2 separate regions of the Homo sapiens genome follow, and region 2 is linked to region 1. Evidence: fine-mapped expression QTL. A gene starts in region 1. The other region holds a variant in brackets. All regions are shown on one strand. Distances are from middle to middle. Region 1 holds the start of RAD51AP1 (RAD51 associated protein 1). Region 2 overlaps FERRY3 (FERRY endosomal RAB5 effector complex subunit 3).

The links. PIP is the estimated chance that this variant, and not a neighbour inherited with it, causes the effect.
Region 2: its variant is fine-mapped to the expression of RAD51AP1 in monocytes after Pam3CSK4 (Quach 2016, PIP 0.95). The same link has a PIP of 0.9 or more in monocytes, monocytes after LPS and monocytes after R848.

Annotation. Positions count from the first base shown.
Region 1 is chr12:4,534,725-4,549,437 of GRCh38, forward strand. It overlaps RAD51AP1 (RAD51 associated protein 1), which reads left to right and starts at 4,166. Exons shown (of 9, transcript NM_006479.5): 1 at 4,166-4,232; 2 at 7,160-7,209; 3 at 9,039-9,180; 4 at 11,585-11,694; 5 at 13,368-13,454; 6 at 13,963-14,112. The coding sequence starts at 4,216. FERRY3 (FERRY endosomal RAB5 effector complex subunit 3) reads right to left here and starts at 3,745. Exons shown (of 14, transcript NM_020374.4): 1 at 3,685-3,745; 2 at 1,293-1,495. The coding sequence starts at 1,470. RefSeq lists enhancers at 646-705, 3,380-3,989, 3,990-4,598 and a silencer at 3,725-3,774.
Region 2 is chr12:4,474,950-4,489,565 of GRCh38, forward strand. It overlaps FERRY3 (FERRY endosomal RAB5 effector complex subunit 3), which reads right to left. Exons shown (of 14, transcript NM_020374.4): 14 at 12,786-14,616. Among named protein-coding and RNA genes, the nearest start is that of FGF6, 36 kb to the left of the region's middle. RefSeq lists an enhancer at 11,194-11,488. The variant G/A (reference allele first, on the strand shown) is at 10,630.

The sequences.
Region 1 (14,713 bases):
TGATACTCTTAATAGAATCTCCAACTAAAATGAAATCAGCTTAGGGGATCATTTAACTAATTTCATGATTATTTTCCTTTACTATTACAGGCTATTGCATAGAGAAAGGTCAAAAGTCTTAACTCTTACGTATTCCCTTGATACTAATAAAGTAATGTTACTTTCTTAAGCCTGATATTTCAGTTTGAAGCCAAGTGGGTATAAGGACATAAAGAAAATGCTACAGATTTTGAAGGTCTGAACATTACTGTATTTACATTAAAAAGAGTTTTCCATGTAACTTTAAAGGGTACATTGTTACATCCTTTGAAAGAGAAGTTAAATGACTAGCTTATTAACACATTTAACTTAGATGACTGACCGATTTCAGTTTTACAGACACCACTTAGAGAATGATATAACGGAAGAGCACTGAGAGAGAAGTTAGGACACCTGTGTTCTGGCTTTGGCTCTATTATTATCACTATGTTCGCGACTTTAGACTGTGGTTCACAATCTTAAGTGTGCATTAGAAACCCCTGGAGGCCTTATTTAAACAGACTGCCACATGCTACCCTAGTTTCTGATTCAGCAGAAATGGGATGCAGCCCGAGAATTTGCATGTCTAACAAGCTTGCAGGTGATGCTGTTGCTGCTAAATGATTAGAAACCATATTTCAAGAACCACTGCCTAGGGTAAATAATTTAACCTCTTTATGTTCCAGTTTCCTTGTTTGTACAATGTGATTGGGCTATAAAGTTTCTAGGTTCTCTTATAACTCTAACCTGTGATCTAACATATTCTGAATTTTAAATTTTTCCTAGACTGTGAGATAGAGCACAGACCTTTAAAAATGGTTTAATACATCTAACTTTATAAAACTAATTTAGGTAAGCAAAGACTATTCAAAAATTAGTACACTTTCTGTTCTATGGCATCTCAGAAATTAATGACCAGATTATTAAAAGGGCAACCAATTTAGCACTATAATTCTATTAGCACAATTAGCGATAGCTAAACTGCCTTATAACTTCACCCAACTAAATTCAGAAGAGCTCCTCTAATTCCAAACTTTGTAGCTAATTTTTCATTATAAAATCTAATTTTTATATTTTATAAACAACTACCACTTATAGGAAAAAACACTCAATAAAAGAAAGCTCTGGAGAAATGTTTTTATTCTTGGAATCAGTTCCTATGTTATGGCTGTTTCCAAAGCTTCTTAGGTTTATGCTTTCTAATATGAAACTTCCAATGACAGACTATTGAAACTAATAAAGTGGTGTTACTTAAAAAAAAAAACAGTCCTCACCTTTTTCTATAAAGCACGGTAAACTGTGCAGCAGCATCAGACGTCCATGCAAATGACTGGCATTCTCTTGAACAGGAAATTTGAGTGGCACTCTCAGTTCTAAGCACTGACTTCCTACTTTAAATTTATATACAAATTCTCTCTCTCTATTGCAGAATCTTTCTCTGTTTTTCTTCATATTCTTTGACAGGATTTCTACAGAACTAACAAAAAAGCAGTAGGTTATAAGTCCATAAAGAAATTATGTTTCATTATTGCTGTCCCATTTCTAAGAAAACATTCCACCATTCAAGAGATTTTGTCTATGAGCCAATTATTCTAGTTTTTCCCAAGTGTTTATCCCTGTACTTCCATCTTCATGATGAAAACAAAGTGCTTCTTTAAAAAAAAAAAAAAAGACACTTTGTTTTAAACTTGATTTAAGAAAAAAAATTATGGCCATAAAGTACTTTATATTCCAAGGCAGGGTTCTCAATAATAGGGAAGGACCATGGAGAGAAGAGCAGAGAGAATTCTTAGGGAGAGTTCATGGGTGGGGAAATACAAAGCTTAAGAAACCGTTGGTAAAAAGAAAGTCAAAGAAGCAGATCAGGGACCAAGGAGTGATCCTGGAGAACTTAGAGGTTGTGGTCATGAGATCCGACTGGGGGAAGGGGAGTAAGAAAGTGTTAGAAAGATTTCCATGTGGGAAGAAGATACACAGAAAAGAGAGAGTACAGGACCTCCACTTCCGGCCCACACCCCAAAGGCAAACTAGACACTACTAAGGAAGAAGAAAATCTAGTTAAAGGCAGTAAGAATCAACATCAATTAAAGATTTATTTATTCATCAGCCTTGTAACTGGACTTCCTATGGCTAGGCTTTCTCCCATCAAATCAGTTCTTACATTATTTTCTACACTGAAGTTATAGTAATCTTCCTTTTTAAAAAAGGAATATACTTATCTGATCATGTTGTTCATCCGCTTAAAAACTTTCTATGACATTCCATTGCTCTCAGGATAAAATGCAAACTCTTTATCCCAGTTTACAACACCCCTGCTTATATTTCCACTCTTCTCTCAGAAACTGCACCTCTCCTTCCTAATACACAAATTCACAAATTTTATTTTCCAGCCATTCTGAACTTCTGTCAACACCAAACTTCTCCTTCCATGCCGAATCTTTTTGAATGCCTTTTCCTTTGCCTAGAGCACTCTTACTGATCTTAATTTCATTGGATAACAATTGCTAATTCTTCAGGTCTCAGTTAAGCCTCTAGGAAGACTTATCCAACTCCCTAAAACTGGATTGGGTCCCGACAGGCTCTCATATTAGCCTAGACTTATTTGAATCATGGCACTTATCACGCTCTATTTCTTACTCTTGGCTAGAAAACAGTCTTCTTGAAGTGGAAGGAATACTGTCTTGTATTCCATGTATTAGGCAGGATGTTGCGAATGGCAAGAACTAATAAATAATTGTTGGATTGTATGGCGTTTTTATTTTATGGTGCTCACTGGAAAAATAAAGAACAAAAAATTATTCATACGGTTATTTAAAAAGATATCACCTGAAATATAAAAAAAACTCAAAGGACTTTTGTACATGTCGTGGGGCGGGGCTAAGTTGAATTATCCAGACTATATTTTCAAATCTGTATGTAGGCTATACACAAAAATCTTCGTCTATTTCACCATAATGCAAAGAGATAGGGTATTTGTTTTACTCAGAAAGAATTAAAATTAAACGTAAAGCAATACAAATTTTTATAATGTTAGAAAACTACCAAAACTACATAAAGGTATATTCTATGATGTAGAAATTTCATTCCTAAGTATATATCCAAATACACACACACGCATATGTTCGCTAAAGTACACCCAGAAGAATGCTCATATAAGTTTTATTTATAATACCCCAAACTGGAAACAACCAAAATGCGTATTAGTAGGAGAATAGTAAACTTGTTTATTTTATGAGATAAATACTACACAGCAATAAAAAAGAATCAACCACTGATAAATGCAAAAATATGAATGAATCAGGAATGTTGAAAAAAAAAAGAGAAGGCAGACACAAAAGCTCTGGTTCAACATTTAGACTTGTGTTTCAAGAAACTGATAACTTTAGTTCTTTCTCCTCTCGCTCTTTTTTTAGACTAATGGTCTATCCTGAAGCCTGGGTTCAGTTTTAGCAACCGTGAAATCCAGGAAGGTTTCCCATAAGAAAATGGGATGGAAGGTCTGGACCGAACACACACAGCCAACAGAGCGGAGGCTCTGAGGCTCACATTAATCAGGGAAAAGGAAGACAGACGGTCGAGCTGAGAAACTTCAGCCGGGTGAGGGGACTAATCCCTCTGTAACGGTTGTCAGTCTGAAAGGGCATCCTCACTCGGTTCTGGGCTCACCTCGTCTAGTTCCGAAGTCCTGGGCAGTCCGCTCACTCGAGCTGTCAGCGCGTCCTGCACTGGGAAACCAGCTGACTTGCCGACATACTTTTTCCACACCGCGGATCCGCGAACGTAGATTCGCCACATCCTTTTCTATTTCCTGGCATCTTGTAGAAAATTTCTCAGTCCAAGTGCCCCTATGTCCCAACCTGTTTCAATTTAACAATTTGAAAGGTGCAATAAGGTGTATTTCTATTGTTATTCTGTATTTCAGAGACAGGGCAAATCCGCCGTTGTGACGAAAGTGCAGGGACAAAGCACAAACTCGGCTCTGGTGGACCGGATACGGAAAAGCGGTGCCTTGGGGAGGGCGGGAGCAAATTCGCTTTCCCCACAGCGCGTGCGCCGCCGCAAGCATGGCTGGTGATGATTGGACGACTGGTAACAGGGGGCGGAGGGCTCCGAAGTCTGGTTTTGGGCGGGAATTGAAACCGCCGCTGAAGCCAACAAGAATTTGAGAACTGTAAATACCAAGCCTTGAAAGGGACCATGGTGCGGCCTGTGAGGTGGGTAGTTCCTGACATTCGTCGGGGGTGGGAGGAAAACTAAGGGAAAAGACATGAGACTAAGGGGAAAGGATCGAGTAAGACCGGAGGGCAGCGATGGTGGGGTTAGGATGGACGGTTATCAAGAACCCAGTCTCCAGTGAGAGCCACCCGTTGCTCAGAAGTATCCTAGCATCGTAGCTTTTTCCTTCTCTTTGCCTCCCTTCACAACCGTCGCCGTTTCTTTTACCAAGACCTTGTTAGCGTTTGAACAGCGCTTTACATTTCACCGAGCGCCCAATTATGTGTTATTTTATTTGTTTATCACTGTAGTTATTTGATATAGAAAGAGTAAGCATTCCTGTTGTATTGATTTAACATTTCTACGTATAGAGGGTAAGTTATCTGAGTCATACAGCCCAGTAAGTGGCAGGGCAATACTCAAACCTAAGTCATCTCACTCAAGATCCTCTGTGCTTTCCATCGTGGTATTAGAAACGATTCTTCTATTTACACAGTTGAGTGCCATGGAAGCCTATAGTTAGCCATTCATTTAATAAAGTTATTGAATATATTCACTTCTTTAGTGTACGAGGTGCTGGAGGTTACATTCCAGTGGGAGGTGAGGTTAGGGGGCCGAAAATAAGCCTCGAAATATGAGAGTGCGAAAGAGGAAAGCACTACTTTAAATATAGTAGTTAATATGTGACTCTGAGGCGATAATGCATGCACTGAGTCATGAATCAGGGTAGAGGGAATAGGAGCCAAGGCCCCATACTTGACCATATTTTAGGGACAGTCTAATGCTATAGGATTAACAAGCAGTGGGGAGAATCGTAGGGGGATTAGGCCAGAGAAATAGGCAGGTGCCAGAACAGATAGGGTCTTGTAAGTCTTAGAAAGGAGTTTAGGTTTTATTTTAAGTCAATGGGAAGTCAGTGGAGGGTTTTAAGTAGGGGAGAGGAATCTAAGTTTGCTTTTATAAAGGTCACTGGCTGTTGGTGGAGAATAAATGATGGATAGGGTGACCAGAACGGGAGCAGGAAAATCAGGTATTATATCATTGGAGAGCGGTTTGGGATAGGGTATTATTAGTGGGCATGGAATGGAACAGATGAATTTGGGATGTATTTCGGAGGCACTGTGGACAGAACTTGCTGATGAAGTAGATGTACAGGTAAGGGAAAGAAAGAATCAGAGATGACTCCACAATAGTTTTGGTCTGAGCTACAGGATGGATGATCTTTGTATTAAGATAGGGAAGACTAGGAAAAGGAAGGTTAGGAGGTGTGAGGGATCAAGATTTCTGTTTCGAACATGCTGAATTTGAAATGGGTTTTAAGCATCCAGGCAGTGGAGTCATAATCCCTTTGTAAGGAACAGCAGTTGTTAAAGTATGGTCTACAGACCTCTGTGGGTCCCTGGAAACTTCTCTAGAGGTCTATGAGGTCAAAACTCCTTTCATAACAATACTAAGATATGATTTGCCTTTTTCGCTGCTTTGTCATTTGCACTGCAGTGACCCCGATAAAACTGCTGGCACCTCAGAACAATTAAGGCAGTGGCACTAAATTGTACTACTAGTCTTTGCAATGTTTACTGCCATACTCTTAAAAGTAAAAAAAAAAAAAAAAATCATTTCAGTTAAGAATATGCTTGATGAAGTAGTGGAAATTATTATATTCATCATAGCTTAACCCTTAAGTATACTAATTAAAAATAGGCTATTGATTTTATTTTACTATTATTCAAGTTCAGAATTTATAAAGGGGTTTTCACATTTTATTCAGCTCTAACTTCTTTAACTCTGAAGAGTAAGAGAGTAATATGAGTGCACTTTTTAATAGTTTGCGTGAGGAAACAGGAAGTACACATAAAGCACTTCTGTATACTGATGCGTGATAGTTATCTCAAGGAAAAGCACTTGTGAGATTGTCTGAGTTGTGAGCTGAGCTTACTACCTCTTTTTCATAGAACATTCTTTTTACTTGAAAGAACAACCAGCTGACAAATTAGGTTATTCACATTTAGCCATTTGACAAAAATATAGAAATAAAAACTAGAAAAACATTTTATTTAGTGCCTAGAGGAGGGAGGAAAAAATTATTTTTTTCACTTTGAATATCATTTTCTTCTAATGCCCTCTGAAGTAGTACAAGTTGAGCATCCCAAATTTGAAATGCTCCAAAATTTGAAACTTTTGCAGTACCTACATGGCACTCAAAGGAAATGTTCATTGGAGCACTTCAGATTTTAGATTTTCAGATTTGGGATGCTCAGCTGGTAAGTATATAATGCAGATATTCCAAAATCTGAAAAAATCCAAAATTCAAAACATTTCTGGTTCCAAGCATTTCAGATAAGGGATACTCATCTCAGGTGGTAGGAACAAGGTCACTCACCATTTTTAAGTGTCCGTTGCATAAAAATGTTATTTGGTATGGTGGAGAGATTGAAAAGAAAGTAGCTTTTAGTGTCAAGAAATTTATAATCTAGTAAGGAAGATAGAATGCACACACAAAACAGAAGAACACGTACAACGGGAACTTACAAATGCCCAACAGCAATTAAACAGTATAGCAATTATAAATGTTAATTATGTAGATTATTCTTTGTAAGTTACCTGAATTTTTTTCCTTTATCATATAATTGAAAAGCCAACAATACCCAGGTATATCAGGTATAGTTGTAACTATTTTAGCTAATGATAAATCCCCGCGGTAAAATGCAAATCATGTTTTAGAGTTAAATATTCTTACTTGAACCCAAACACATTTTCATTTATTGAAACACATTTCATTTAACACATTTTTATTTATTTCGTTTATTCATTATTTATTAATAAATGAATAATATTAAATAAATAAATAATATTCATTAATAGCCTTAAGTAATAGTGGTGAGAAATTGACATTTGTGTTAATGAAAAAATTCTGTTTTGGTCATAGACATAAGAAACCAGTCAATTACTCACAGTTTGACCACTCTGACAGTGATGGTAAGTAAAGCTTCTTATTTTTGTTCTAAAGATTTGGAAACTCATTTCCTCGGAATTTATATGACATATATAGCTCAAACACTGACTAAATTGCCCAAATGCATATGAGGTAGGTCTGGAAAGATAGTTTTCTAATCATTTGGGATAATTATGCTGATAATTATACTGATAAAAATTATGTTAGTAGGTGATAAATGAACAGGCCAGGTGAAAAGTCTCTTTAGATCTAAACTACTCTAAAGTCCATAGTTGCAACATAGAGGTTTGTCTCCTATTCCATCCCTGAAGAAGGAAAACACTGTCTTTTTGAGATACAAAGATGTTACAGCATATTATATAAAATCCCTATTAATTGTACTATAAAACAAGACCTTGAAGAAAGGTTAGGCTTATGTTATGCCTTTTAAGCATTAGTCATATGTTTACTTGACTCTGCTATGATTGAAAAGTTTGAGGAACATTGCATTAGATTATGTTATATGTTGAAGTGGATTTAATATTTCTTTCTTAGACCACTAGAGTTTTCTGTAAGTCAAATATTTAGTAAGTCTTCGGTTTGAAGGAATCTGTTTTTGCCTTGAGCACAGCCTTAACTGTATCTACCACTTGGGAAAAAGAGTGTAGAGTATAACATCTAGCTTTTTTTTTTTTTTTGTCATCAGTCTGTCATCAGATACTTATAAATTGCCAGGTGTGTAGTAGTAGGTGGGGGGAGTCCTAAGTTATCTTATTTTTACATGGGGAAGCATATAAGAGACAACAAGTATTAGTGCTTGCTGAGTATGTGATGAAGACTGCATAGACCCTGAAAGTATGCATATATGTGTTGTATACATGTGGAAAAGCCACAGCAGTAGTTTTACGTTGACAGTCAAGAGTAGAACTACAACAGTTCAGAGGATTGGTAAGACAGAAAAACCTGTGAGAAACAGTAATGGACTGGAAAAGAACATCCTTTTGCAAGAAAATAAGAAGTTACTTTGGTAGGATCTTAGGAAGATCATTATGGTAATGGAAAGAGAAAATACTACTATTGTAAAAATCCTCAAATAGGAGCTACTTTCTCTTCCCCCCATAATGCTTATTTCCTCTAGCATGGTTAATGTACTAGGAATAGGTAATGGGCTTTTTTTTCTCTTTTTTTTGAGACGGAGTCTCACTCTTGCACCTAGGCTAGAGTGCAACAGCGCGATCTTGGCTCACTGCAACCTCTGCCTCCCAGGTTCAAGCGATTCTCCCACCTCACCTCCTGAGTAGCTGGGATTATAGGTGTCCGCCACCATGCCTGGCTAATTTTTGTATTTTTTAGTAGAGACAGGGTTTCACCACTTTGGCCAGGCTGGTCTTGAACTCGTGACTTCAGGTGATCTGCCCGCCTTGGCCTCCCAAAGTGCTGGGATTACAAGTGTGAGCCACTGTGCCTGGCCCAAGTAATGGGCTTTGAAAAAAGATATTTGGCTACATTGTGAAGTTCCCATAAAAATAATTTATTTCCACTTTTCAATGTGATTAAATTCTACCAATTTTTCTAATGGTTTTACAGGTTTTTAATCATTTTTTCTTTGACACTTATATGCTGTCTTAATTGCTTTTGCAGTTTTTAGTGAATTGGTTTTTGATAGACTGATATTTTTAAATATAAAGGGCACAAAAACAAAAGTCGAAATAGATAAATGAGAGTAAAGATAAACAAAATACTAACAATGATTTTTAAATTGTGGAAATTAAACAATTTGCCTAGCCTATAAAAACTTGAACACACATGGTAATGATTTTCATTTATGAAGAAAATAATATTTTTCTTTTGGTTTTAATTCACACATGAATAGATGATTTTGTTTCTGCAACTGTACCTTTAAACAAGAAATCCAGAACAGCACCAAAGGAGTTAAAACAAGATAAACCAAAACCTAACTTGAACAATCTCCGGAAAGAAGAAATCCCAGTACAAGAGAAAACCCCTAAAAAAAGGTGAGAGGTAAGACATGCAGTAAATATATGACATTAGATGTGTTAATTTTAAAGAGACACAGATTCGAACCCTTGATTTAAATTAGAACTTGGGCAGAGTCATAGGTCTTATTTTACTAGGTGCAGTCAGAAAACAGGACGTACTATTTTTTTCTGGCTTTCTGACTTAAAGAAATTCACAAACATTCAAGGAAGTATCATTAAATATTAAGACAATAATGATTGTAGAATTCAGAAGTTATGACTGGTTTTGACAGGACCCAGCACTTATCTCTGAATTCCTCAAATCATACGAGACTACTTTGTTAAAAATGACATTAGATGACTTAAGATGATTAAGACACAAGATGACTTAATATGAGGACAGTTTTTAAAATATAAAACCATGTATTTTCTTGCAGAAAAAGATGTCTTCTCCCCATGTTGTTAAGATTTATCCAGCAGTGAGAAGTTCCCATAGTTTCTAGACTAACCGTGGAATTCCATTAGATAGTATCAAGAGGCAGAAAGGAGTGAAGGAAGTCCTTAGAGACCCAAAACTTGCAGTATGGAGAAGAGATGGGCGGAAGGGGAATATTAACAAATGGAACATGGCATATATAATGTTTTACTGCCACAAGTTTCTCTATGAAAAGTGAGTTAGCCTGGAGAAACTTACCTCATGTCATGCTCTTTTTTGCTTTTCTTTTTTTTGGTTTTTGTTTGTGAGTTTCTTGTATTACATTTTAAATATATAGAAAAAGGAACCCACACGTGGGAGAAAATATTTGTAAATCAGATAACTGATAAGGGACTGTATCCAGAGTATACACAGAACTCGTAAAACTCAACAGTAAAAAGACTAACAACACAATTTAAAATGTGCAAAAGATTTCAATAGACTTTCTCCAGAGAAGATAAACAAATAACCAATAAACACATGAAAAGATGCTCAATATCATTAGCTGTGAGGGCAATGCAAATCAAAATCAGAATGAGATAATACTTCACACCCACTAGATGACTTAATACAAAAGACAAGGAATGTGGAGAAATTTGAACCCTCATATATTGCTGGTGGGAAAGTAAAATGGTGCAGCTAAATTGGAAAATGGTTTAGCAGTTCCTCAAAATGTTAAACAGAGTTATTACATGACCCAGCCTATGTATGTATCCAAGAGAAATGAAAACATATGCCCACACAAAAACCCATACATGAATGTTCACAGCAACATTATTCATAATAGCTAAAAAAAAATGGAGGCAATCTAAATGTCTATCTGCTAATGAATGGATAAGTAAAATGTGGTTTCCACAAAATGGAATATTTTTCAGCCATAGAAAGAAATGACAACTGATAACTGATATATACTGCAATATGGATGAACCTTGGAAACATCATTCTGAGTGAAAGAAGCCAGATATACAGGTCACATATTACATGATTTCATTTGCATGAAATGTCCAGAATAGGCAAATCCATAGAAACGGAAAGCAGATTAATGGTTGCTAGGAGGGGAGAGGGGTAAACAGGAAGTGAATGCTAATGGGTATGGGGTTTCTTTTTGGGGTAATAAAGATGTTCTGAAATTAGGTAGTGTTGGTGGTTTTACAGCTCTGTGAATGTACTAAAAACTGCTGAATTGTTTACTTTAAAAGGTAAACTTTATGATATGTGAATTATATCTTAAGAAAACTGTTATTCTAAAAAAATAAATTCTTTAAGGTACATCTCAGTGCTTCTTCCTTTATGTAACTTTTCCTTATCTGTCTTTGACGTTTTCTTCCTCTTATACTCCATAGCACTTTTGAGCAGCTTGAATAGGACTTTATAGTCTGCCTTTTATAGGATAATTATTAGCATGTCTTGTTTCCCCACCCTCCTCCTTTAATTGCAGACTCCCTGAAGGTACTTTTAGTATTCCAGCTAGTGCAGTGCCTTGTACAAAGTAAGTGCTTGGTAAAATATTTGTTAAAGTCTGGATTGGGAGGAAGAGATGTAAAAAAATGATAATAATTTTAATTTAATGTAAGAGCTATAAAATCTGCTAAAGGGGAGTGGGTGAGGTCAAGGAAGAGTTTTAAGTGGAAGTGATGTTTGAACCAAGTCTGTTTTGGGTTGAGTAGGGTGTTTCCCACCTGGACACAGCTGGTAGTAAGGTGACACATTACAATGAAAGGGAACAGTCATTGCAAAGAGGCACATGGTCCTCCTATTTCAAACCTCTTATTCTGTATGTAACATGATACTGTGACATTTTAGGAGTCTTATCTTATCATCAAAGGTCTATTAATGATGATTGTTTAAAAACATTTTTGCGAAGTTAGCAACTCTTGAATAGTAATTTGGAGAAATCTCAAACTTTGCTCTTTAGTTGAGATTGATATTTTGAAGAACTCATTATTACTTGTGTATCTATTTTAGGATGGCTTTAGATGACAAGCTCTACCAGAGAGACTTAGAAGTTGCACTAGCTTTATCAGTGAAGGAACTTCCAACAGTCACCACTAATGTGCAGAACTCTCAAGATAAAAGTAACTTTATTTTCTGTATATTTAGCTTTAAAACCTTCTTAATGCTTTTGTGATTATTTGTTTGGGTGGGCCTTCACAGAGGAAACAGGTAAAATGTGAATACTTTGCACTATAAATAGACCCATTTGCAGAGAATACGATTGGATTTAGTTCTTAATTCAGCTGCCTAAATCTCATACAAACAGACATACATCTCTGCTTAACACCCAGAATAAGCTTGAGGGCACGGACTGTGAGCCTCAGTGTTCGAATTATATGTTGTTGTACAGTGAACATTTAATTTCTTCATCAAATGATTTGATCTGTACAGTCCTAACAATCCATCTCCATTTTTTCCAGATCAGTTAAACATACCCTAATTATGGTAATTTTTATTACTTACAAAGGTCAAAGGTATTAATTTGGTTAGCAAGTTCAGTAGACTTAAGAGAATGGCTTTTGGATTTCTCTGTTGATTTTCTCCTTTGATTTTTCTGGCAATATATTAATATTCTAGAGAGGCAGAAATCATTATTCCTGAAAAAGATACTCTACTGCTAAAATGCTTTTTGGCTTAAAGTTTTTATGTTGGGGGATATTTTAGCTTATTATCTTATTTAGGGGTATACATGGAGCTTTTTTCTTTGTTTCTTAAATCAGTACTGCCTCCTTATTTATTTATTTATTTGAGACAGGGTCTCTCTCTGTCATCCAGGCAGGAATACAGTGGCATGATCATGGCTCAATACAACCTTGACCTCCTAGGCTCAAGCAGTCCTCCTGCCTCAGCCTCCTGAGTAGCCGGGACTACAGGCATGTGCCGCCATGCCTGGCTAATTTTTTATTTTGTAGAGAGGGGTCTCACTATGTTGCGCATGCTGCCCTCAAACTCCCAGCCTCAAGCAATCCTCCTGCCTCAGCCTCCCAAAGTGCTGGGATTACAGGCGAGAGCCACCTTATCTGGCTGCCTCCTCTTTAAAAAGAAATGAAAGTTTGATTAGGAAGACTTTTAGTAACCAAGAATCAAAGAAACATCAAAAGAGAATTATCATGAATTACATTTAAAATGGAGGCACTGAAATTCATCTCTCTCTTTTAAGACATTGTAGAATGTATAAGGGGAGTTCCTTAGAAGTATTAATATTATACCATTTCTTATTAAATAATGCACCTTATAGCATTGGAATTTAATAGTACCAATTATTATGTCTTAAAGTCCTCTTAGAATGCTTTGGGTCATTTTAAGGTTATTATAACGATTGGAGAGTTCTTAACGTTAGTAAAAGCATGGATTTGCCTACACAGAATTGATAGTTTATTGACCATTTCCTGTATATTAGGCACAATAATAAGCAATTCCTATGTGAGATCCACATTTGGTCTTCTGTAATACCACTGGGTAAGACACTATTTTTATCTCCACATTATAGATGAGGAAATTCAGTCTTAGGATAAGCAACTTGCCCATGGTCATATAGCCAGTTTACATGGTAGAGCCTGAATTTAAACATGTTAGATTTCAGAGCCCAGACTTCTAACCATATGTTAACCTCTCTGAATAAAATTATTGTGCCAGTTGGAGTTTGGGATCATTTATTTATATCTAAATGCTATTACATTTTAGTACTAATTTTCCTATATCTAGACATTGATTAAGATATATCTGAATTTTCTTTCTTATTCCTTATATTTAGGCATTGAAAAACATGGCAGTAGTAAAATAGAAACAATGAATAAGTCTCCTCATATCTCTAATTGCAGTGTAGCCAGTGATTATTTAGGTAAGTTTTTTATATTAATAATTTTTCTCATCAACAATGCTGTTTCTCTGACTTTTGTTTAAATTGCTGAAATTGTGGCTAGAAGCAAGTTCTTTAAATTTGTCAAGACTCTCTTGATGTCATGGCCTTTATTTCTTTGTGTTTTAGTCTCATTCTGTCGTACTGCAGACACACATTCTTCCCTGAAGGGTCATAACTACCCGTGGCTTCTAGTTGGAGCAACTGACCTTTGAAGAAAGGGGCTGCATATTCCCAATTCTAGTTTGAAAATTTTGGGGGAAAGATTATCTCTGTTTGGGTCTTGGATTTATCCCTAAAACTAGAGGTGTTCCCAGGGCACTGATGTACCATGGTTGACCCAGATTGGGCTAATAGTCTATTACTGGAAGCATGGGAGGGATGAACCTGGGCAAATAAAAACAATAGCTGTAATAGAGTCTGGTCTGCAGTTCTTGAAATATCAGTTGTCACAGAAAGTTTTCCATTGATTTTTATGCCTCTCCTGAAGATTTGGATAAGATTACTGTGGAAGATGATGTTGGTGGTGTTCAAGGGAAAAGAAAAGCAGCATCTAAAGCTGCAGCACAGCAGAGGAAGATTCTTCTGGAAGGCAGTGATGGTGATAGTGCTAATGACACTGAACCAGACTTTGCACCTGGTAGGTTTTATTCTACTTCGAAATTAATTCTATGGGAATTCAGTCAAAAAAGTTCTTGGAAGCTATTAATTGTGCAAAGCACTGTGTTAAACCTTTGGGGTGTGCAAACTTCAGGGACACACAGAACAGTTCAATTCAGTGATAGCATTTGGGGAAAAAGTTTTTTCTACGAGTTAACCTTTAAGCTATGCCTTGAAAAATGAGTAGCGTTTCAACAAACTAAAGGTGTAAAGTAGCATTTCTGACTAACAGAAAGGCATTACCTGTGGAATAGACAAATGCTCTATTTGTCTCTAACTGAGGCTTGCTGGGATGAACATGGAAGAGGCTCGAGAGGGAGGCTGGTACTAATCAGGGAGGGTCTCAGACCCACTGGAAGAAGTGTAGGCTTTTTTTTCCTGGAGGTAGTAGAAATCCATGAATTATTCTGAGGCAGAAGTGATATGAAATCTATATTTTATTATGATGGTTTTTAGACTCATTTAGAAATTGGGCAAATGGAAAGTGTAGTGACCTTGACAGAACATTATAACATATTAATTAAAAATTTAAATTCATAAATTCATAAATGTAGGCCAAATCAAGATACCATATTTTAGAT
Region 2 (14,616 bases), 60 kb before region 1:
TGCAAGGAATATAAGAATATATACTCCCATATTCACAATGGAATACTATTCAGCCATAACATAGAATTGTGAGGAATATAGGAATATATATTCCTGTATTCACCATGGAATACTATTCAGCCTTAAAATAGACAGCAGTCCTTCCATTTGCAACAACATGGATGAAACTGGAGGACATTATGCTGAGTGAAATAAGCAAAGCACCGAAAGGCAAATACTGCATGATGTCATTCATATGTGGAACCTTAACAAGTCGAACTCATAGAAGCAGGGAGTAGAATGGTGGTTACCGAGGGCTGGATGAAGGGGAAGAATTAGGTAGATGTTGGAGAAATTAGGGGGGGAATTAGGCCGATGTTCAATTAGACAGAAGGAATAAGTTCAGGAGGTCTACTGTACAACATGGTGGCTACAGTTAATGAAAACATCTTGCATACTTGCAATAGCTAACAGAGTCAATTTTAAATGTTCTTATGACAAAAAAGTAAGTATATGAGGTAATAAATATGTTAATTAGCTTGATTTAGCATTTCCACCATGTATACATCTATCAAAACATTTGTAAGCCATAAATAGTATAATTTTTGTCAATAACAATTAATTTTTAAAAGTCTTGCATCCTTAATATTCCCTCTATTTTTCAGGTTTTTCTCTTCATTACTCGTAAATCTTTTCCTACTCTTGTTTCCACCCAATAGTCCTTACAGGACAACACTCCACCACCCTGTGCCAATGATTTATTTTTCTCTGATTTATTAATAGTAACAAGCAAACCCTTATATAGCTCTCCTTATATGACAGGCAGTGTTATAAGTATTTCATGTATGTTCATTCATTTAGTCCTCAGAACAAGATCATTGATTCTCATTATCCCCATTTCAAGGAAACCCAGATAGAAGTTCAGTGACATGCCCAAGGTCAAGGCTCAATTCCAGATAGTCAAGCACCAGAATCTGTTCTATTAACCACTGTGACATACAACCAGTTTGGGGGAATCTCTGCTCTCTCAGCTTCAGCTTCCACTGCTCCCAAATAGTCCCCTTTCTCCTCTCCCCAAATATAATCCCAACACTGAGTTCAGAATTCCTAAAACAGAAGTCAGGAGAGGATTTTAGATTAGCTTCCAGTACTGCTTAGGCTAGGGAACACAAACGTCTGGCCGTGCTCTTGGCATGAGTGAGGAAAAATACAAGGAGAAAAAGATACAGATTATTATTTCAATAAATTATCCCACTTCATGGATGAGGTGAGAATATCATGGAAAGGAGGTGGCACTGTGACCGATTCTGGCCCGGGTCCCCAAGCCTCTGAGTCTGTTAGCTTGCTTCCATGTCCAATTCTATATCACACATAATCATTCCTGCTCTTGTAGCTAGGGTAATCTGCTTGAAAAACAATTTTATCCCATGAACTCTCTGTTCAGAAATATTCAGAAAGATGTTATCTGTTCTGGAATTAGATCATGGTGATGGTTACATAACTTTGTGAATATACTAAAAACCACTGAATTTTACACTTTAAAAGGATGGGTTTGATGGTGTGAATTAAAGCCTAATTTTGAAAAAGAGGAAAGGTATTTTATCATCTCCCCCTTTGGAGTTAAATTCTGGATCTTCAAGATCCACAATATGATCCTTCATTATCTCTCCAGTCTAATTTCATCTCCCACTATTCAGCTGTCCTTTCCACTCTCCACACCCAGTCCTCCTCCACATCTCTGGTCATGTCGTTTCTCTTAACTAAAATCCTTTTCTCCTCCGCTCATCTCTATCTCATACTTTCCTCAAGATCAGTTCGAGCCCTACTTTTCTGAAAACTAGTCTTTGTTAATTTCTTCGGACTCTAAACACTGTTTGCTTTTATAGTATTCCAGCTTTGGCATAAATTTTAGTATAACGACAGTTCCTTGAATGAAGAGACCCTTCTTTTTCATCTCTATAACTCAGCATCCTGCACAGTGCCTGGTACTGAGTATACACTTTGAAAAGTGAATGTATAAACTGCATTTTTACTAATTTCTAAATGGTTCATATGTGCTTGTCTTGTTTCTTCAACTTGACTGTAAGGTGCTGCAGAAAGGGTCTACATCTCTATTTGAGATTTAGCACAAGTTCAGAACAGGACATATGGTTGACCCCTGAGTGAGTTAGACCCTTCAGCTGCTTAATTACCTGATGTCTTGGCAGACAGAGTTGTGCCTTTGACATTTTATTGGTGGTGCACTGAAAAGGGAGGACACTGAACTGGCGGAGAGAGTCCCCAGGATGCCTGGCTGAATGGTGGTTGCTCCACCCTTAACCACAAATGGTTCATTGTCCACCACTTTTGGCATTTGTAACAGTATTTGGAAAGAGATGTAGCAATTTCCCCCCCAGGGCTTATTTTTAAAGTCAGTGGCTGAGAGTGCTTGTCGGAAGTGGGGTCAGACAGAGCTGAGGGCTCTGAGCTGCCTGGTGGATGGGATGGGTGCTGCCCAAGAAGAGATATAGTGGTTGGTCCTTAATTTTGGACCTCTACTGCCCTGGGAGAAAAGTCCAGGCCAAAGGAAAGGGATGACTTACCCAAAACAGATCACAGCTTCCATGGAGATACAACTACACTGTCAGCCAGTGTTTTGCCAACCCTAAAGTTTTAAGACTAGGGCTGGGTCAGCCCGAGGGCTAGTGGGCTTCTACTCACTCAATGGGAAATGTAAGTTTTATTGAGGGCGCTATGTGCCTGGTAGTAGTACTCTGCTAGGCACTAGAGATTAAAGTGTAGACATGGCAGTTTCTGCCCTTGAAAAGATTATAGACAAATAGGGAAAGCCAGACAAATGAAAAGATAAATATATTAGTGTGGTAAGTGCAACAATGGTGGTAGAGGGATAAAGGCTCTTTAATTCCTTAAAGAAGTGGCATCCAAATTGAGGCCTGGTGGTGAATTGAAGGTAACCAGATCAAGGAGGGAGATATTTCAGAGAGTAGATTATGCAGTACTCAAGAAATGAAAGAAAATGTCATCTACACAGATCTGGAGGTAGTTCAGTTGTGTAAAGCAGGGGATCATCATATAATAGCCCATGAGCCAAATCCAGCAAGCCATCTGTTTTTGTGATTAAAGTTTTATTTAAACACAATCCCACTCAGCCATTTGCATATTATCTATGGCTGCTGTTGCACTACAGCCACAGAACTGAGTAGTTGCAATGGACAACACATGGTCCTCAAATCCTAAAATAGTTACTATGCTGGTCTAGAGAATATTGCTTGGGGGAAGGAGTTGGAGAGGTAATCAGGAGACAGACCAAAGAGTTCACTCTTTATTTTAAAAGCAACATAGGAGCAACTGACATGTTTGAAGCAGGAACACAGCATGATAATATTTGAATTTTAGATAATTATGGTGAGATTAAGAAAGAAGAAGAGGCAAAACTGGAGTTGGAGAAACCAGTTTGAAAGATGGCATATAGGCAAGAAATAATGGCACCAATTATTTCTTCAATTATGAAGGCACCAATGGGATGGAAATAAATGAACAGATTTGAAAGATGAGGATTTGGTGATCAGCTGTGGGACTGTGTGAGAGGGATGGTACTTCAGGCAAACTTTCCATTTGGAATTTTTCTAAGATGAGAAAGAAGCAGTAGTGACCCAATAGCTCAATGATACTATTAGACTTCTCTCATTTACATGAATGTTTCAGTCTTTCTTGTCTCACAATATTGTTTTTCCCCAGTCTACTTAGACTCAATATTACCACTTCAGTGGAATGTAGAAACCTTGTCACCATATAGGTTTCCATTTATGTTCTAGGTGTTCTTTGCATAAATATCTTGAAAATCTCATTAGATAATGTTATAATTTTTGCTTTCAATAATCAAACATACTTTAAAGAACCCAAGAGGAAAATATTGTATTTACTCAGGCATTTACCGTTTCTATTCCTTTTCCTTCATTCCTCATGTTCCAATTTTTATCCTGAAAGTCATTTTCCTTTTGTCTGAAGAAATTCCTCTAGCAATACTTCCTTTAGCAGGTTCGCTGGCAACAAATTCTCTTAGTTTTTCTTTCTTGGAGAATGTCTTTATTTCCCCTTCATTCCTGAAGAATTTTTGTACTGGATATAGAATTCTAGATTGACAGTCTTTTAGCGCTTTAAAATTGTTCCACCTCCTTCTGGCTTCCACAAGTTTAGATGAGAAATCTGCAGTCGTTCAAATTGGTGTTTCCTTATGAGTAATGCATTGGGTTTCTCTGGCTGCTTTCAAGATTATTTTCTTTGTCTTTAGTTTTCAGTATTTTGATTATTCACTAAATTTGGAGAAATTTCAGCCAATATTTCTTCAAATATATGTTTTCTCATCACTACATCTTTTCTCTTCTTTTGGGACTCCAATGTCATGAATTTAGAACTTTTTGTTTTTCCCATTCAGCCCATGAGGCTCAGATCATTTTTTCATTTTTTTTCCTCTGTGTATTCAACGTGGAAATTTTTTATTGATCTATTTCCAAGTTCACTGGCCATTGACTCTTCTCTTTGTCATCTTGATTGTGTTTCTGTTCCTATCCAGTGAGTGTTTTTTTTAATTTTGGAGATTATATTTTTTATCTCTAAAATTTCCATTTGGTTCTTCTTTAGATCTATTTCTTTGCTAAGAATTTCTATTGTTTTACACATTTCAAATGAATTTTAAAAGGGCTTTTATAATGGCTGTTTTAAAGTCTTTGTATTATAATCCCAACATCTGCCATCTCAGAATTACTGTCTATTGATTGTTTTTTCAGAGTTGAGATTTTTTCTGATTCTTTGTAAGGCAAGTAATTTTAGTTTGTATTCAGGTCATTTTTACTATTGTTATGAGACTCTAGGTTTTCAGTCCTATGGAGAATGTTGATATTTTTCTCTAGCAGACAATCAACCAGTCTGTTTCAGGCCACACATTCAGACCGACCTCTTGTGGGTTATGGTTTCAATGTCATTCCCATTTTCAAAGACTTTGCAGTGTTATCTGAATTTGTCTTGCATGTGTGTCACTCAGTAGACAGTCTAAAACCTGGGTGTAGTCTAAGCTCTCAAAAGCTTTGGTATGAAGTTTAGAATTAGATTCATGCTGGCACATCTCTAGTGTAAGCCCAGGAGTTCATAAACAACTCTATGGGTTGGCTTTCAAACTCTCCCTTTCTATAATTTTCCTTGTATTTACCTTGTGTCTCCCATTTTCAGCTTTCTAGACAGAAATCCAGGGCTTTAGTTTCCCACACTCAGTTGTGTTCATCCTGTAACTCCTGCTTTTTGGTTTTGTTTGTGTTTTGTTTTGTTTCCTCAGCCTGGGAAAGCATCTTCCTCTACTCTTTATCTGGCTAATTGCTACCGATTTTTCAGGTCTTAGTTTAAATATAATTTCCTCCTAAAAGCTTTGTCTTATTTGCATATCCATTATATTCCCCTTGTTATTTTCTCACAGGACCCATAATAATCTATAATTTCATATATAGTTGTTCATTGATTTTAATGTCTCTTCTGCTCGACAGAGGATGAGATTATCTGTCTTATTCAGTATTATGCAATGTTTCCAGTATCTAAAACAATGCATGGTACACAAAAGATGCTCAATAAATATTCATTTAATGCATAATTATATTCTTCCTTTCGTCCATGCATCCAACTTTCCATGCTCTGCCTCATCCCCCAAAAAATATGAAGATTGTCACATTCAAATATGAACCTACTCTCAACGATCAAAGTAAACTATATCGTTTTGTAACTTGATAATTTGTAAAGCATTCTTATTTTTTTCTTGTGTGGCTTTATGAATTAGAGAGAGGAAAATGTATTAATCATACTTTATGGGCAAATTAACTGAGATTCAAAGAGATAAAATAATTTGTCCTAGTCACAGCTAGTAATGAAAGTGATGGGTAGGGCTTAAATGACAGGTTAGTTGGTTACAAAATTTTAAATTGGCAGTTATTTTCTCTTAATGCTTATTATTTTCTGGTGCTTATTGTTGCTGTTGAAAATTTGTAGTCTTTAAAATTGTCATGCAAATCTCTCTTTATTTGATTCTTAAAAATTTTTTTAGAGACTTTTAAGATTTACCTTTGTTTTAGGTGTTCTGCAATTTTACCACAAAGGGTCTAGCTGTAGATTTATTTTTCTTTTTCTGCTTAGATGTCAACCTGCTTCCTGAATCTGAAGATTCATGTCCATCAATGTTGGGAAAGTTTTAGTCATGTTTTGTTACTGTCTTCTACCTGTTTCTGTCTACACCCCTAATAAAATTGGATGCTTACCTCACAATATTCAAAAGTGAATCTCAAATGGATTAAAGGCCCAAATAAGAAAAAGCAAAGTGTTAAAACTCACAGGAGAAAATATATGAGTATTTAGCTACGATACTAGGGGTAAGAAACAGTATCTCAAGTGAGATATAAGAAGTTTAAACCATAAAGGAAAAGATTGATATGTCACATCAAAATTTAAGACCTCTGCGAAAATAAAACATAATAAAAAGTAAAACAACAAACCACAGCCTGGGAAAAGAAAAGAGGTTTTCAAGAATACCTAATAAAAGTTTAATATTTGGGGCCGGGCGTGGTGGCTCAAGCCTGTAATCCTAGCACTTTGGGAGGCTGAGGTGGGTGGGTCATGAGGTCAGGAGTTCAAGACCAGCCTGGCCAACATGGTGAAAACCTGTCTCTACTAAAAATACAAAAAATAGCTGGGCGTGGTGGCGAGTACCTATAATCCAAGCTACTTGGGAGGCTGAGGCAGGAGAATCGTTTGAACCCAAGAAGGGGAGGCTGCAGTGAGCCAAGATCACACCATTGCACTCCAGCCTGGTTAACAGCGTGAGATTCCATCTCAAAAAAAAAGTTTAATATTTGGAATATAGAAAGAATGTCTGCAAATTCAATAAGGAAAGGGAAAACAATGGAAGAGAAGAAAATGGACAAAGGATTCAAACAGACAACTCATGAAAAGGGAAATCCACGCAGGGAGTGGTGGCTCACGCCTGTAATCCCAGCACTTTGGGAGGCTGAGGAGGGCGGATTACCTGAGGTCAGGAGTTCAAGACCAGCCTGGTCAACATGGCGAAACCCCGTCTCTACTAAAAATACAAAAATTAGCTGGGCGTGGTGGTGCACACCTGCAATCCCAGCTACTCGGGAAGCTGAGGCACGAGAATCACTTGAACCTGGGAGATGGAGGTTGCAGTGAGCCAAGACTGTGCCACTACACTCCAGCCTGGGTGACAGAGCAAGACTCTGTCAAAAAAAAAAAAAAAAAAAAGAAAGAAAGAAAAAAGAAAAGCGAAATCCAAATGACCAACAAATGTGCCATGCTGCTCAACATCGCCACTAACCAGGGAAATGCAAAATAAAACAGTAACGAGATACTATTTTATACTTATCAGAATGGTAAGAATTAAAATTTCCAAAAATTTCTGCCCAGTCTATATGAAGAAAAAGGAGTGTTCACACATGCCATTAGAAGGAAAATTTGGTACAACTATGGAGTTAAATTTGGAATTTCTTAAATTTTAAGATGTCGATAATCCAGAAACTCTTTTCAGAGATATAAACCATGGAAAAACTGTAACATATGTACACAATGATACATGTACAAGAATGTAGTTGCTGTGGCACAGTATGAAGTGACACAAAAGTGAAAGCAACCTCACTGTCAATAAATAGGAGAATGAGTAAATACATAAATTGGACTATAGGCATATAATTCAGTCTTCAAATATACTACAGCCAAAATTAGTAAAGTAGCTATATGTATATTAGCGTGATTAAATCCCAAAAGCATGATATTGGATTCTTAAAAATGCAAATGTTGAATGATCTGTAGAAGATAAAGCTTTCAGTACAATACTATATACATCTTATGGCTACACTCTGTGGATATGCATTAAAACTATAAATTAACCTGTAAGAATGAATAACAACAAAGTCAAGATAGCGGTTACTGCCAAGGAGAGACTATGACACATTGAAGACAAAAATATTCCCAGTTCTTCTCCTCATCCTGTGTTCATGCTCTTTTCAATGTGACTTTTTAGCACTTCTCATCAAAATAAGGAGTCTATTACCCCACCTCTTGAGTCTGGGATGGCTGTGTGACCAGATTTAATCGACGACAGAATGTAGTGGAAGTGATGGTGTGTCAATCCTCTTTTCCAGCTCTACTACCACTATGTAAACACGTCTGGGCTAGCCTCACGGAGGATGGCTCACAGTGAAGAAAAGTCCAGCTGTGCCAGCAGAGGTCATTTATACCAGCCTACAGCCAGCCAACCCCCAAACATGTGACAACGCCTAGCCCAGATAATCAGAGTGGCCTACTCGACCCACCACTGACCAAAGACTCAAAAATGAGCCCAGGCGAGACCAGAACTGCTGAGGTGACCACCCGTAGAATCATAAAGAATAAATGCTTATTGTTTCAGCCACTAAGTTTTGGAGTGGTTTGTTCCTCAGAAGTAGCTGATACAAGGAGAGGCTAAAGCTACAGGAGCAAAAGAGAACCTGCATCTGTGATCTTTTATGTGATAAAAAAGACAGCCCTAAAGCAAAGGTGGCAAAATTTTAAGCTTGAACAAAAACAAGTAGTAGGTACATGGTTATTTGTTATAATTTCTCTAACTTCTTTTTATCTTTGAAGTATTTCACGATAAAAGGAAATTCAGATAGCAGAGTCAATGTGCTACACTAGCCAAGACAGCCAAGATGATTTTTAAAAAGAAAAAGTATTTATCCTAGTGCCCCTCCCCCATCCCCATCACCACACACATAAAGTAGACTAAGTAGATTAGTGATTTCTGAGTTCTGATCCTCTTCTCTCATCCCAGGACATCTCCTCTACACCTTCCTAGCATCTAATCCTCTTGCCTCAGTTGCTCATCTGCAAGACAGCAAACACATGATCAGCTTGCTGACAAGAGAGTCCTAAGAGTTGAACCAGGAAAGCATTACAGGGGCAAGTTGTTCATTCAGCTGCTATGTGGGTAGGAGACTTTAAATTCCATAAGTACTTCATACTATTGTTATTTCTAAAATCTAGATTCACTTCATATAAAAAATATGATAGTCCTTCCTGCTCTACTCAAATACAGGGTTAGTCACCTACCCTGTGACTTCCTCCTGACATTCAGATCCTTTGTATCTGAAGTTGTTGCCATTGCTGGCACAGGTGGCATTCTTCCCATCTGCCAGGAGGATTTGTGCTTCACCTGTTGAGAATAATGAGGGTTCAGAGGATACTCACTCAGTGCCAGAGAAAGGCAGGGATAAGCAGTCTGCTTTCAAGAGGCTCAACATCTCTCTTGGCCCAACGTATGCTAATGTTTCTATTTTGACTTCCATAGCACTCTGTGTATGCTTTTTTCTGCACTGACTGTATACCTCTAGTATATGCTAGCTGGTACTGTGGTTACTGTGTGTTTTCCTACCAACTCAATTGGGCTGTAAGCTTCTTGAGGACACGGTGTCTTAAGTGACTTAGCATCCCTTCTATCTAGTGAAAGGAAGAAAGGGAAGAAGGAGAAAGGTCAGACAGGAAGAAAGGAAGGAGGAGACAGGAAGGAATGAAGGAAGGAAGGATAATAGCAGCAAATATTTATAGGATGACTATATGCCAGGTAATGTGCCCTTCTTATGCAATCCTTCCAACCACTCAATGAGGTAGATACTATTATTAATTTTCCCTAGCTTACAGATGAGGAAACATGCTTAACGGGATTAGGTAATATGCCCGATGTAACAAGCCACAGCAAATAAACTGAGGAGTCAGCATTTGAATCAGGCTTAACTTTAGAGACTATGTTCCTGATCTCTGATGTTATATTGTTGCTCAGAGTAGAGACTTTTGAGCACAGATGAGCTGATACCAGGAAATGAGAATTTATTATAAAGAAAGAAAAGGAGAGAAGGCTAGGGAGAAAGGAGGAGACATGCATCAGTACATTCTCCTCCTGCAGATGTCACACCTAACGTATGACAGATGACAGTACAGTTTCTGCTTAATTCCTGAACATGTCAAGAAAGGATCTGTTTGCTTCTTTGGTAACGTGTTCCAGGTTTCATTCTCTATGCACCAAAAATATCTACGAATAGCTCTTGCACCCTCTTGCCGGTGAGAGAAGACACATACAGTCGACTCTCACAGTTCACAGTAGTTATGTTCGATAAAGATGCTGTGAACCCTGAATTAGTGAATACTAAATCATTGCTCCCAAGGGAGACAGAGAGTTAAATTCCTGCAAGGCTCTGACCACAACAGTCTCATCAGCCCATCAAGATATAATCTTGTTTTATGTGTGCTACTGTTGAAAGACACCTTATTTAATACCCATCACTGATTCATTATCATTGAACTTTTGACCAACAGCACTACATTGCCTACCTGGACAGAGCTTATCTAGACATGCGTTGTCTTCATCAGGGACATCACAACCTTCTTGCACTTGGGAACACCAGATAGCACTTGAGCACTACACTTGGACCATTTTGAACAACAAAATCACCACAAAGCAATGGAAAAAAAAACATGGTGCTAAACAGACCCATGAAAGGGACATTTATTTGCACTATGAAAGCTAAAATAAGGCAGCAGAGCATCACCTTGCTCCATCTGAGCTGG[G/A]AACATATGTGTTGGGCGACTCAAACATTTTGGTGCTCTGAACATGTCCACAGATAACCTGAAAGTGCTGCCAAAGGCCCTGCTTTTTATTCTATTGGCCAGTTACAACATCTACGTGACTTTGGGGTGATGAATCTATTGTCTTTGTAAATGACTGTATGCTTTTGTAAATGTCTTTAACAATTTCGGAGTTACAAATAAATTTTAGTGAATAGGTGATTGCATAAATATGGTATCTTCAACTAATGAGGATTGACTGTATATAGTATGAAGTTCAGCCAGCCTTAGATTTGGATATATGAGAAAGCCTCATATGTCTTCGATTTGGACATATCCAGAACCATTTTCCTGTAGGAAAACAGGAAATGAACCGCAAGAGAGAACTGAAGTATATGGTAATTTTATCTGTGTATATTTAAATAGGACATTATAAGCACATATTGGTCCTGCAGGCACCTCAGGAGGTTACTCCTCCTTTCCCCTGCTTTAGCTGAAATTTTATTTTAGTTATTAGAGATCATCAGCATCACAGATTACAGAAAAGCCCGCCAAGTCTTCTGTCTTTACAAGTCCCATTGCCTTTGTATAACCTTCTAGGGGCTGAATCTTGCTTGCACTATGCCTTTGTGTATAGAAGAAACTCAGTAAACACTGGCTGTTTATTGAACGAGATTCTCAGGGTCAATCTGCTATTTATGTTTTCTTGATCTCTGCCGTCCCTTTGTAACATATTCTCATGTAAATATTTCTGCCCAAGGTTGTGGTTCCCAGCTTGGGGTTCCTGGAATTAGTGATCCTTTAAGATATTGAGCTATAAAGAATCTCTCAAAAAATACATTTCACTTGGATGATGTCCCACAGGTTAAGTCAAACACCAAGGCTTTGTTTTTGCAAGTTTGCCTGGAATTACACAATGATAATTCTATGCATTTTATGTGGTAATACTAGGCATGAGAATGCACAGTGATAATTGTAGGTGATAATACTATGTACCATTTGCTAATCAGAAGCTTCTCTCCAGACATACCTGTCTTTGATTTAGTAAAAAAGATTGCTCAAATAATTCCAATTGTTTATGTTCTCAAAACATTTCGGGCAAAGATGTGATGGATAATGAAAGATTCTTGAACAAAGGATAGAAAATCACTGATTTAAAAGGTCCTGAAAACATGGTACTTTTTCCAAATAGGTGTTGTATTCTTTTTGCTTCACATTTATGATTTTTATACTTCTATTACTCCTACTGAGCAAATCAGTCCCACTTCATATAAATGGAAAAACTTAAGTCACAGAAAAGCAGCCATTTTCACCTAGAAACTGAAAAATAGAAAATAAAAAGAAACTGAAAAATAGGCCTGAGGCTCGTCTCTAACTTTAGTGGGTTCTTTCTACAGTTCTGTGAATTCTCCCTTAGAGCCTCTAGAAAAGAAATGTTTCTGTGATTTCATCTTTCTTTTGTGAAACATGTTTTCTTCTTGTGAGAATTAGCCAGGATCCAACTGAAGTAACACAAATGATGGTGTGTACTGTGCCAATAAGAGATCTGCCAACTCCCAGGCAAGCTCAGTTTCTTCCCGCTGAAATTCTTTTTCATGCATTTCTTCCATTCTGGTCACACTGTCATGCTGAGAAACAGCTGGTGCCACACTTCTAGATCAATGGCTTTGCTTGTGTGGTGCTTCGAGAGCAGAAATGGGGGAAGGGGGGGAAAGAGCAGCACAGAATGGAGACCTCAGGTTCAGTGCCTCTGCCTGATTTCCAAAGCACACTCTTAAGGCCTTGAGGGCCATTTAGGAATATGTAACTGTTTATACAAATAGAAAACTTCTAACTCACAATCCTCACCAATGTCAATGTTTGTGCTAATCTCCCCATCCTCAAAGACTCTCGTGGTCAGCTCCTCTCAACTTACTGGCCATTTACCACTGCCTCCATTCTGCTTCTGCTCCTATCTGCGCCTTACTCAGTTGTCCCTTGGTATCTGCAGGAGACTGGTTCCAGACCCCCTGCCAATATCAATATCCCTGGATGCTCCAGTCTCATATAAAGTGGTGTAGTAATTGCATACAACCTACACACAGCCTCCCATATACTTAATCCGTCTATACATTACTTATACCAAATACAATGTAAATGCCATGTAAACAGATGTTATATTGTATTTTTAAAATTTTTATTGTATTTTTTTTCAGAATATTTTCCATCCACAGTTGGTTGAACAGAGTGCCATCTGTACCTAGAATGCTGTCTCAGCCCAAGGTACCTTCTTCACATCATTCATGAAGTGCTTTAAACCACTCCCCCTCAAGAAGCCCTTTAGAACACTCAGAAAAAGATCCTCATCTCATAATTCTTGGTCCAAATACAAAACTCCAGACTCCTCAATTACTGCATCACTAAAATTCCCACCATTTCAGTGCATATAATTAGCTTTTTAAGTTATATATTTATTATTAGCTTGGTGTTTGTGTGTTTCCATCAGTGGTAACACCATAAACATGATTCTTCCAATTTTACTACTTCTGTAACACAGTTGCATGTGGAAAACGGACATTCGATAAATTTATCCTGACTTCACATGCCAAATAGTACCTTTACACAGCCCTCAGTTAAAGCCACCAGTTTATAAGTAACTTAGTGGAATAGCCTAGAGGTGACAAAGGAAGAGTTGGGCAGCAGCATTCAACAAACATCCGTGAATGAAACTTTGCTCCTCCATTCCGATATCTGGGCTGCACTGATCTACCACTCTCCTGGTTTCTGCCTCTGTCTTCCCTGCTTTGCATTAGAATCAGTCTCAGTGATTAACAGTGGTGCCTGAAAGACAATTTCTCCAAGAGAACTGTATAGGCTCTAAGGGCAAAACACCTGCCTTCTTGGCAGAATCGCCAGGCTCCCTGACAAATAATTTGGAGAGTTTTAGTGTCTAATGGACATACTGCTGGAGTGGGTGTTCTTAGGGTTGTCTTTAGTGTTGTTACCTGGACAAACCTTTCCCTCGAGTAGAAAATTAAGACACATTCTGTTATAGGAAAGCACTCTGCTTGCCAACAGTTTCTATAATAGTTATTACACTGAGGCATATTAATGAAGGGCGTTTTGTTTCTTGTCATCAAGACATGCCATCTTATGACACCAAATGCCCTCCATTTCATTCTTGTGGCCAGTTACAATATCCACATAACTTGGAATTGATGAAACTATTGCTTTTCTAAACACCTGTGTGCTTTTGTAAATGCCTTTGTTTAATGGAGTTACTACTTATAGCATTTAAATATGTTATAGATGGGACAAATATATGATATGTAGCACCTGAGAAAGTAGTACCATAAGGAAAAACAATGGAAAAGGAGGGGAAACAGAGAAGCAGAAATGGGGATACATTTATCCGCAAAAAAATGCAAGAGGTAGAGGAATGGTTAAGCAAGCTGAGAACGCAGGGAGGACAGAAATGTAGAAATGATCTTCCTTGTGTGATTGTCACAATGTTGATGAGCACTAAAATACTGCCAGGTGCTGGTTTAGACTAACTTGACATCAAGCTTGCAAAAAAGAACACTATTTCCCAGTCCATGAAATGTTATTAATATGCAAGTGCAAGGGCACAGCGGGAGGATGAGAGAGAGGGAAAAAATCCAAAACGTCTTCTGACTCTAACTTGTACATCCTTAGGAGTAGATTAAAAAGAGATTCTGAAACAGGAGAATTTAAAAGAACAAGCACATTTGTCTTATACATTTGTGTTTCTATAAAAAGATTTTCACAGGAAATTTGTACTTGCAATGTATATTTCAGTGCTTTTACATTTTGTTTTGGCAAAGAAAGTAAAAGGAAAATTTTGTTTGTATGTTTAATTAAGGATTGCACCTGAGACGAGTCAAGCCTCTTGAAAAAGTCAAATGCCTCCATGTAAATATAATCAAGTTTCCTTTCCCAAGTGTCCATGTGTGATAAATAAAAAGTTTTAGATTACTAATATTCACAGGT